Regions from separate parts of the Homo sapiens genome. Here region 2 is linked to region 1. The links come from fine-mapping of genetic effects on gene expression. A gene starts in region 1. The other region holds a variant in brackets. All regions are shown on one strand. Distances are between the middles of the regions.

Region 1 (4,386 bases):
CCCACTGCCACCAGTCGCCCGAGGTGCGGCTGGAGGAAGGTGCATCCTGTACCCAGCGGCCGTTACCTGGCCAGTGTGCGTGACCTTCTCCCCGGTCGGCGAGACCCGCACCCCGAAACACCTGGCGCCCAGGGGCAGGCTCCGCGCCGCCTCGCCACACCGGTTCAGCAGCCGGCAGAAGGTCATCGCCGCCGCCATTTTGCGCCGCTGGCCTTTGACCCGGCGCAACGTCCCGCTTAGCGCTAACGCATGCGCACGGCTTCTGGCGGCGCCAAACACCCGGTATTTATTTCGCCCTGGGGGCGGGGAGCGCGGGTCGGGGCAGAGGGTGCGCCGGAGCTGCTCTCTGATTCAGGTGGTCACCCGTTTTCATCCCAGGTATCTCGCTAAAAATGCCCCTGATTACACCGAGTACTGTGCGCTTGTTTGACTTTTCATCAATGGCCTAAAAGTTAAGCGGCCCCGTTGCGCCGGCAGGTGCAGCCTCATGCAGTTGCAGCCGCAGGCTAGAGCTAGGGCCCTGATGAGGCAGGCAATGGTGTGCGAAACCTTCAGCGATTAGGAGTACCCAGTGGTTCTTATTTAGCGGACAGGCAGGGGAGGATGTAAACTGAAAATACATTGTTTATATTCTTATGGTAACCGATAATCATGAGACATTTAAATATCAAAATTATTGGGTGAAGGAGTCAACTGCTTAGCAGACGAGACTGGAAGTGCATTCTCCTCGTTCAAGGCAAGCGTTCCTGTGTGTGGTTACGGGGAGCCGCAGAGGAAACGTATATTGGGGATTTCTGCAACAAAGCCTAGTACACCGACTGATTTTACAGCATGCAAATACAGCCTCTAAAAAGGCCCGTTTTGCTTAGAGTTGACTTGGGTATAAATCCCAGCTTAAGCTCCAGCATCCAGCTTTTCTTTTGCTGTGGTCAGAGCCTGAGGACCACGTGACTCCAAGAACAAAACACTAGAGATGGATGAGTGGCGGGGAAGATGATAAAGAGGAGGAAAGGCATGAGAAACAAGAATGCACATGAAAACCTCCGGTCCCAAAGATGTCCCAGCAAACGTGGTGGTCAGAGGCAGATTTGTCCTGGAGCTGATAAACTCCAGCGGCCCGCCCGGTGTTCGCCGGGTCAGGTGGAAAAAGTGGGCGCTGCGATGAAGCGTTGGGGCCTGCAGGGAGCGCGGAGTGGACGCAGCCACGTCTGCAACTCACCCGGACACACACAAAAAGGAAGGCGAATGGAGTTACGGGTAGATACCTGAAAAGGCAGGGATAAGCGAGCTAAGGGTAGAATCTAGGTGGCAAGTATATGGGTGTTCACCGTACAGTTCTTTCCCTTTTTCTCTATGTCCGAAGTTTTTCATAATGTTGGGGAAAACAGCCGTAACCAGTTGAAACTACTGCCCGTCTCCACTCGTTTCCCGGAGCCTGTTTACATTTCTCCTGTCCACTTAAAAACATGTCCTCTTTCTCAGTTTGTTTTGACATTGGTATTTGCCAGTTTTTTCTAAGGCCTAAGTGGTTGTAATTTCTTTTTCGTTGCGGATATCCATTTTCGTTCCTGGTTTTTGCATTTTTTTTCCCGAGAGCGCTCCAAACAGCACGACGATCCCGGTGGCCCGCAGAGTGCGCGCAGTCGGGGAGTGATACGTCGCACTCCAGCGCCTGCGCACTCGCTGCTGCGTCTCTGCGCCCCGCACTGGACGTGGGCACGCCACGTGACCCCCCCCCCCGCCGCCATCTTCCTTCCTGGCAGCAGCGTCCGCGTGCCAGTGCGCAGACGCAGGGGTCGGCGCCGGGTGAGAGCGTGCGGCCGGGTAAGGGAGCCGTCTTCTCAGGTCAGGGGTCCCGGGTGTCTTGAGAGTGGGGGCTGCGAGAGGGTGGGGCCGGCCACCTTGGGACCCTCGGGCGTGTCTCCCCGAGTGGGCTGCGGTCAGAGGAGCGTGGGCCGGGGCCTGGCGGTCTCAGAGGGCCAGGGTTGGGGGGTGCGGGTCCGACCGTGGGCGCCCGACCTGGCGACAGGAGGGGGTGTCCAGCGACCCCGGGGCGGGAGAACTGGCGGCTCCCGAACGCGACCTCACAGCCCGCGCGCAGGGCCGGCTCCGGTGCCGCAGTGTCCTCCGGGCCCTGCAGGCCCAGCTCTTCCCAGCCGGGGCCGCTGAACCCTAAGGGCCGGGGCGCGTGGGGAAGCAGGGGCGGGCGACCGGGGTGCCAGAGTTCCGTGCTCTTCCGGAGCGGGGGCCTGTCCCGAAACTGGCCCGAGGGAGGGCCCCTGGGTCTGGGAAGAGTTGGAGGGAGGAGCTCATCAGTTGAACCGTCCTTGACCTGGTGTCTGTTTGGAAAGGGATGCGGCCTAAGTTTAAGCTCCCTCCCAGCCAAGTGAGCGGCTCCTCAACATCGCAGGGCTTTGCACACTCACCTACACTTGCAGCAGGCGGGAAAGGGAAGGAAGCCACCGTCCACTGCCCCTTATTCTCCTGGCACACTTGGCTGATTAAGGCAGTGTTCAAGCTCAGGTCGAGGCTGCAGCTGGTATGGGAACACCCTCAGTCCCCGAGGTCCCTGCCTTCCCAAGCCTCAGTGAAACAGAGAAAAGGAAGCCTTAAAGAGCAGGTGGAAGTGCAGGAGAAGCTATAACTCCTTTTTTTCTCTCTCCCATAGATTCACCACAACATGGCAAATCTTTTTATAAGGAAAATGGTGAACCCTCTGCTCTATCTCAGTCGTCACACGGTGAAGCCTCGAGCCCTCTCCACATTTCTATTTGGATCCATTCGAGGTGCAGCCCCCGTGGCTGTGGAACCCGGGGCAGCAGTGCGCTCACTTCTCTCACCCGGCCTCCTGCCCCATCTGCTGCCTGCGCTGGGGTTCAAAAACAAGACTGTCCTTAAGAAGCGCTGCAAGGACTGTTACCTGGTGAAGAGGCGGGGTCGGTGGTACGTCTACTGTAAAACCCATCCGAGGCACAAGCAGAGACAGATGTAGACCCTTTCCCTCCAGAGTCACGCACATACTCGTCATCGCATCACTTGGGAGAATGGTTGTATCTTATGGAAGGAATTATCACATCAAGGAGTCAGGGGAAAGTGACTGGAAGCAAACGCCCTAAAAGTTACCCATCACGTTTCAGTGTAAATGAGTAACTATAGAAGACATTGCGTTATCTTATTTCCAAAACGTTCCAACTAAAAAACATTTTCCTATTAAAATAGACCTTCCGAATAGCTTAGTTCATTCATTCTCTCTGAACTCAGGCTGCAGGTAGGGATTGGATGGTGCTGGGTGAGGCTGGGCAGGACTTCTCTATGTCTCCGTGAGGCTGCTTAGAGCCTCTTGGAAGAAGTGGTGTTTTGGTCACCCGTCGCTGTACAAGCCAAGGCTTGGTGGCTTAAATCAGCCATTTTACATTGTTCACGATTTTGTGAGGCATTTGGGATGGGCTCAGCTGAGCAGTTTGTCTGATCTGTGTGGCATTAACTGCAGGACCCACTTCCAAGATGGCACCGGCTCTCCTGTCTGGGGTCTCAGTGCTCCTCAGGCTGTACGTAGCACCTCCTCAGGCAGGGCCCACAGCGTGGCTTGCACTGCCCCACAGTGAGCTTCCCGAGAGTGTCCCGAGAGACCCAAGCAGATGCTACGAGGCTTCCTATGACCCAGCCTCAGAAATTCCAGCGTGTCATTTCTACCGCACTCTTTCAGTCCCTAGGGTGAGCCCAGATTCAGGGGGAGGCAAGGAGCTCCCCTTGCTAGAGGATGACCACACCTACAACTGGTAAGGACTTGGAGGGATGGAGTGGGCTGGTCCTTCCCTGGTCATCGGGATTCATAGTTGAGTGAGCCCCATGCCTTGGGGGAGCACTGTCATCAACATGAATTTGGGGGTGGGGAGCACAGTCCAACCCAGAGCAGATGCTGAGATGCGACAGCCTTCTCACGGCTCCTTTCCTCCTGGCCAGGGACACCTCCCCTTCTCCCAGAAAGGAGTTTTGTGAGACAGGAGACCACGCAAGAAGCCTAGCGCGGGGGGAGCGCCCTCCTGCCCAGATCAGCAGCAGGGGCGCAGCAGGGTCACCCAGAAAGGCCTGGTGGGGCGGCAGAGGGGGCAGCATGGCCACATGAGGGCCAAAGCTCCTCCCCAGCACCCACATCACTTCTCCAGGGGGAGCAGACGCCGGTGTGTGTTGCTGTGAACTCTGTGCTGTGCCCATTCACCCTCACAAAGGGCCTCTGCAAGCAGCTTGACATGGGCATTGCAGCCCGCAGGCGTCTGGCCAGTTGAAGAAGGTGGAGAGCGTTATTACCTGAAAGAAAAGGGAACCAGCTCTGCGAAGAGCCTGCTTCTGTTGTGCAGTGAAAGGGAAGCCCTCTCTCGAGCCGTT
Region 2 (4,386 bases), 22 kb after region 1:
GCGCACATGGGCCTGCCTCCCAGCGGGAGAGGCTGAGGTGGGAGTGACCGAAGGCCAAGCTGGATAAGAGACCCCGAGGTGGGGCCACACACACCCCGAAGCAACAAGTGCCCTCCGGAACCTCGGCCCTGCGGCCGCTACGCTTTTATGCAATGTGTGCGTCTGGGCTCACTTTGCGGAGCAGTCGTAATTCCCACCACATTCGCAGGAGGATCTGGGACAGCCCCGGTGCCTTGGCCCTGATGGTGCCGTCTGCCTCTCAGGACCTGACTGCCTAAGTGCTCCTCGACGGGGACTTCTTGGGGAATGGACTCTGATTAAATGACCCTCGGCTTTCCAAGGAGCTTCCTTCTGCACGTAAGCATTGTTGGGAGACCTGTGAAGGGCGGCTTCCTGATGGAGAGGGACCCAAAAGAGCTCCAGCCCATGGCACATCCACAAGCGTTTGCCACCGGGGCAGTGACCCTGGTCTGGCCCCTCGTTGCTGCCACCTCCGCCTCCTTGCCTTCCCGCAACTCCTGGCGCCCAGGCCTTCCGTCCTGCCGGCTGGCAGCACTCTGATTTCTGCGTGCTTATGATTAACCTGTACAATATGTTCCTCTTAATGCAGGGCTGTTTTCCTCTCCTCCAATTCTACAAACTGGAAAACAGCATATAGCCCGAGGCCACCCGGAATAATGCTGGTGTCAAGCATTAAAAAACATATTTGTTTTGTGTCCTCTAAGGACGAATGATAGACATGTAAAAATGTTTCCCTGCTTTCCTTTCAGGGAATACTTAGTTTAGAATTAACTTCTGTCAGAGAAAACACAATTTCCCGCACCCACTCTGTATGACTTCCCACCATTTCTATTTTGCGGGGGAAAATACCACACTGTGTTTGACACGTATGATTACAAGTTTACAGAATCCACTTACGTTTCTGCTGTTATTATTGTTTCTCTTTAGGAAAAGCTACTCATTAGAACCAAACAGAAGCCTTCTTTCGGGAGAAACAAATAAATGCAGGAAATTGGCTGTCCCCAGCTGAGCCGGCCTGATTTGTCCTTGTGTCTGGGAAAATGGGCTCCCCCAGGGGTTAGGGCAAGGGAGCGCCCATACCCCCAACCAAGCTGAGACCGTGGAAACTGGCCCCCCGAGGGGGGTGAGGGGAGCTGGCATGTCGCTTTCCTGCTGGGAAGGTGCCCGTAACACACATGCACACACATGCACCCTGCCCTCTCAGAGACAAAGGGCTTGCTTGGGACAGACAGTGACAGCCAGTGCTGCCCTCATTGTGACCGTTGCAGCCTGGGTCACCCCACAGGCCCCCAGCTTTCAGCTGGAGGGCACAGGAAACCCTGGGCTGCTCAGGCAAGCACGGCCCAGACCAACCCTCATCTTCACGCCAGGCTGTGGCTCGCTGCACCTTTGCCAGTGTTCCCAGGGAGGGAGAGGCACTTGGTGTTTTGCATCCTGGTGCCATAGCCGATGCCCCTGGGTCTCTGCCTTTCTTTGCAGTCGCACCAGGGCAGCAGGTATGGACAGCAGGTGTGTGTCTCCCGACTCTGACTTCTGGGTGACCAGAGGCCCAGGGGGCTTCAATGCAGGAGGGTCATCTGCTTTGCTGCCCACAAGGTAGACAATGAACACAGAGCCCCGGATGTCAGCTGACTCACCAGCACTACCCAGCCAGGCTGAAGACAGGACCTCCTGACACCAGAGCCTCCCCGGCTGTGCAAGGCCCACACACACCTGGCACACTGCTGTCCTTCCTCTTCATCTGGCCTTGTTGGCTCAGGCAGTTGTAACAAAGTACCACGGGCCGGGGCTTCAACACCAGAAACTGTTCCCTCCCAGTCTGGGGGCCGGGAGTTCAAGACCAAGGGGCCACTGGGCGGTTTCTCCCGAGGCTTCTTCATGGCCTACAGACTGTGGCTTCTCCCGTGTCCTCCCACGGCCACTCCTCTGCGCACGCGCATCCCTGGTGTCGATTTCTCTTCTTACAAGGACA[T/C]GTCCTATCGGGTCAGGGCCCTCCTCACAACCTCATTTAACCTTAATTCCCTCCCTAATGTCCTAGCTCCAGATACAGTCCCGTGGGGGCTGGGGCCTCACCTATGACTTTGGAGGACACGGCTTAGTCCACAGTGTCGCTCTCTGCCGGCGGCATCCACCATAACAGACGCCGCACGGGAGGCGCAGGGCTTTCCCCGGAGAGGGCGCGGCTTTTCTCAGCCGAGCTCCTGGTCTCACCAGGCTGCTGTCCTTAGTCTCCCTGCTCAGCAAGGCCGGTGTCTGCTGTGGGCTGTGTCCACTGCCCCTCAGGACAGTCCTGGAGGAGACAGCTCCATGTGCTCAGAGGCTCCTCGCAGCTCCCACTGCCCACTGTGTCCTGCCCTGAATGCATCCAGAAGGGGTCAGAAAAAAAGGAAGCTCCGAGAGGGGACAGGGAGTGACAGGACAGACGGGATCCCATGTGTCTGTGTCACCAAAGCAATTGGCACAAATCCTGGGAAGAGAGTGGGGCCTCAGCCCTCCAGAGGCAAAGACCTGGGAGAGTTGCCGCCCTCCCCACGGAGGCATGGGTGGGTGGGGATGGGAGAAGAACTGGAAGGCCATGTGGTGTTTGAAGATGCCAGATGCCCGATGCCCAGGGGAGCAGCAACAGAGGGAGCTCCTCCTGCGAGGCTGAGCCCAGGAGGTAACTGAGGACATGGCAGGAGGAAGACCTCAGTGAGGACTTTGTGAAACTTAGGAAGAAAGGAACTGTGACCCAAAACACATGGAGAAGAGGAAGAACAAAGAGTCAAGAAGCCAATACAAGGCAGCTGCCTCCAAGGCTGACCTGAGAGGAGTAACTGACCAACCTCGGGCCTGGACCTTCGAGGTTTAGGGGCCAATTTCTTATTGACCAGATGCCCTCCCAGCCCCAGGCCTTCATTATGATTATGAATCCTTTCTTCTGTTACCCAAGTTCATTGTAAGAACATCTTCTAGAAAGAGCTCATCAAATAGCTCAGAAGAGAGCTAGGCCCTACATCACTCTTTGCTAAGCATTTATACCTTGAGATAATTTTAGGTCGTATTTTTACTGTTTGGACTACATTGGATTAGTTAATATTTTGATTTACCAATGTAATACATAGTCATTTCAGAAAACTTACAAATAAAAAAAGGATTGAACAATAAAATATGATTAAATAAAATCCCACCATTTGTAGAAAAACCAATGTGGATATTCTTGGAAACTGAGAAATGATTTCCATACAGGGACGTGCTCATGCCTTCGGAGTGCTGTTCAGTCACTTCAACAGGCCCCAGGTGTGACGCAGGCTCCCGACACCTTTTCCCATCACTGCCCACATGTTCCCATGAATCTGATCTCGTCAACAACAAACAACCAACAACAACAAAGTTTAGTCTTACCTGTTCAAGACTTTCATGTAAATGGAATAATTCAGTATAAACTAGTTGGCATTCAGCTTCTTTCCCTCAGCACTTTTACTTCTTTATTTTGGATTAATATGACTTCCATTTCCCATTCATGTCTTACTGCAGTGGCTAGTACCTCTTGTACTATACTGAGAAGAAGCGGTAAGAGCTCTTTATCAGGTTGAAAAATTTACCAACTATTTTCTACCAACATTTGCTAAGAGTTTTTAAGTTATAAAACGGTGTTATATTTTCTCAAATAATTGATTTGCATCTATTGAAATGACAATATAATTTTTCTTCTTTAGTTAATTTGGTGAACTACATTGATTTATTCTCTTATGTTAAACAGATGTTGCATTTCTGGAATTTTCTAGAATCATGATTAAGTGGTCCAACTTAATCATGATATCTTATTCTTGTTACTTATTGCTGAATTTGATATGCTTATGTTTTGTTAGTGATTTTTGCATCTATGCTTATGAAGGCTATTGGTCTGTCAATTTCTGACCTTATAATGCCTTTGTCTGGTTTTTGAATTCTGGTTATAGTAACGTCATAAAATACTTTAGGAAATGATAGTTCCTCCTCTAGTTTATGAGTTTATATAGAATAGATGTTACTTCTTTCTTACACACTAGATGGAATTTACTAATGAAGTTGTTTGGGCCTGGAATTTTCTTTATAAGGAGTTTAATTATGAATTAATATCTTTAACAAATATAGGGCGATTTAAATTTTCTATTTTTGCCTGGGTTTATTTTGGTAATGTGTGTCTCTCAGGGAATTTGTCCATTTTATCTAAGCTGTCGAATGCATCAGCATGAAATTGTTCGTGTCATCACTCATTACCCTTTGCGTGTCTGCAGGACCTGTTGTGATGCCCCTTCCTGGTTCCTGACATTGATGATTTGTCTTGCCTTTTTTTTTTTTAAATAATCAGTCTTGTTAAGGGATTTTCAATTTTATTAATCT

The links.
Region 2: its variant is fine-mapped to the expression of MRPL36 in whole blood (INTERVAL, PIP above 0.99).

The regions. Positions count from the first base shown.
Region 1 is chr5:1,797,230-1,801,615 of GRCh38, reverse strand. MRPL36 (mitochondrial ribosomal protein L36) reads left to right here and starts at 1,779. Exons shown (of 2, transcript NM_032479.4): 1 at 1,779-1,824; 2 at 2,669-3,231. The coding sequence starts at 2,681. The coding sequence ends at 2,992. NDUFS6 (NADH:ubiquinone oxidoreductase subunit S6) reads right to left here and starts at 209. Exons shown (of 4, transcript NM_004553.6): 1 at 67-209. The coding sequence starts at 198. RefSeq lists enhancers at 1-400, 580-709, 770-819 and a silencer at 1,900-2,309.
Region 2 is chr5:1,775,246-1,779,631 of GRCh38, reverse strand. No RefSeq gene overlaps it. Among named protein-coding and RNA genes, the nearest start is that of MRPL36, 22 kb to the left of the region's middle. The variant T/C (reference allele first, on the strand shown) is at 1,994.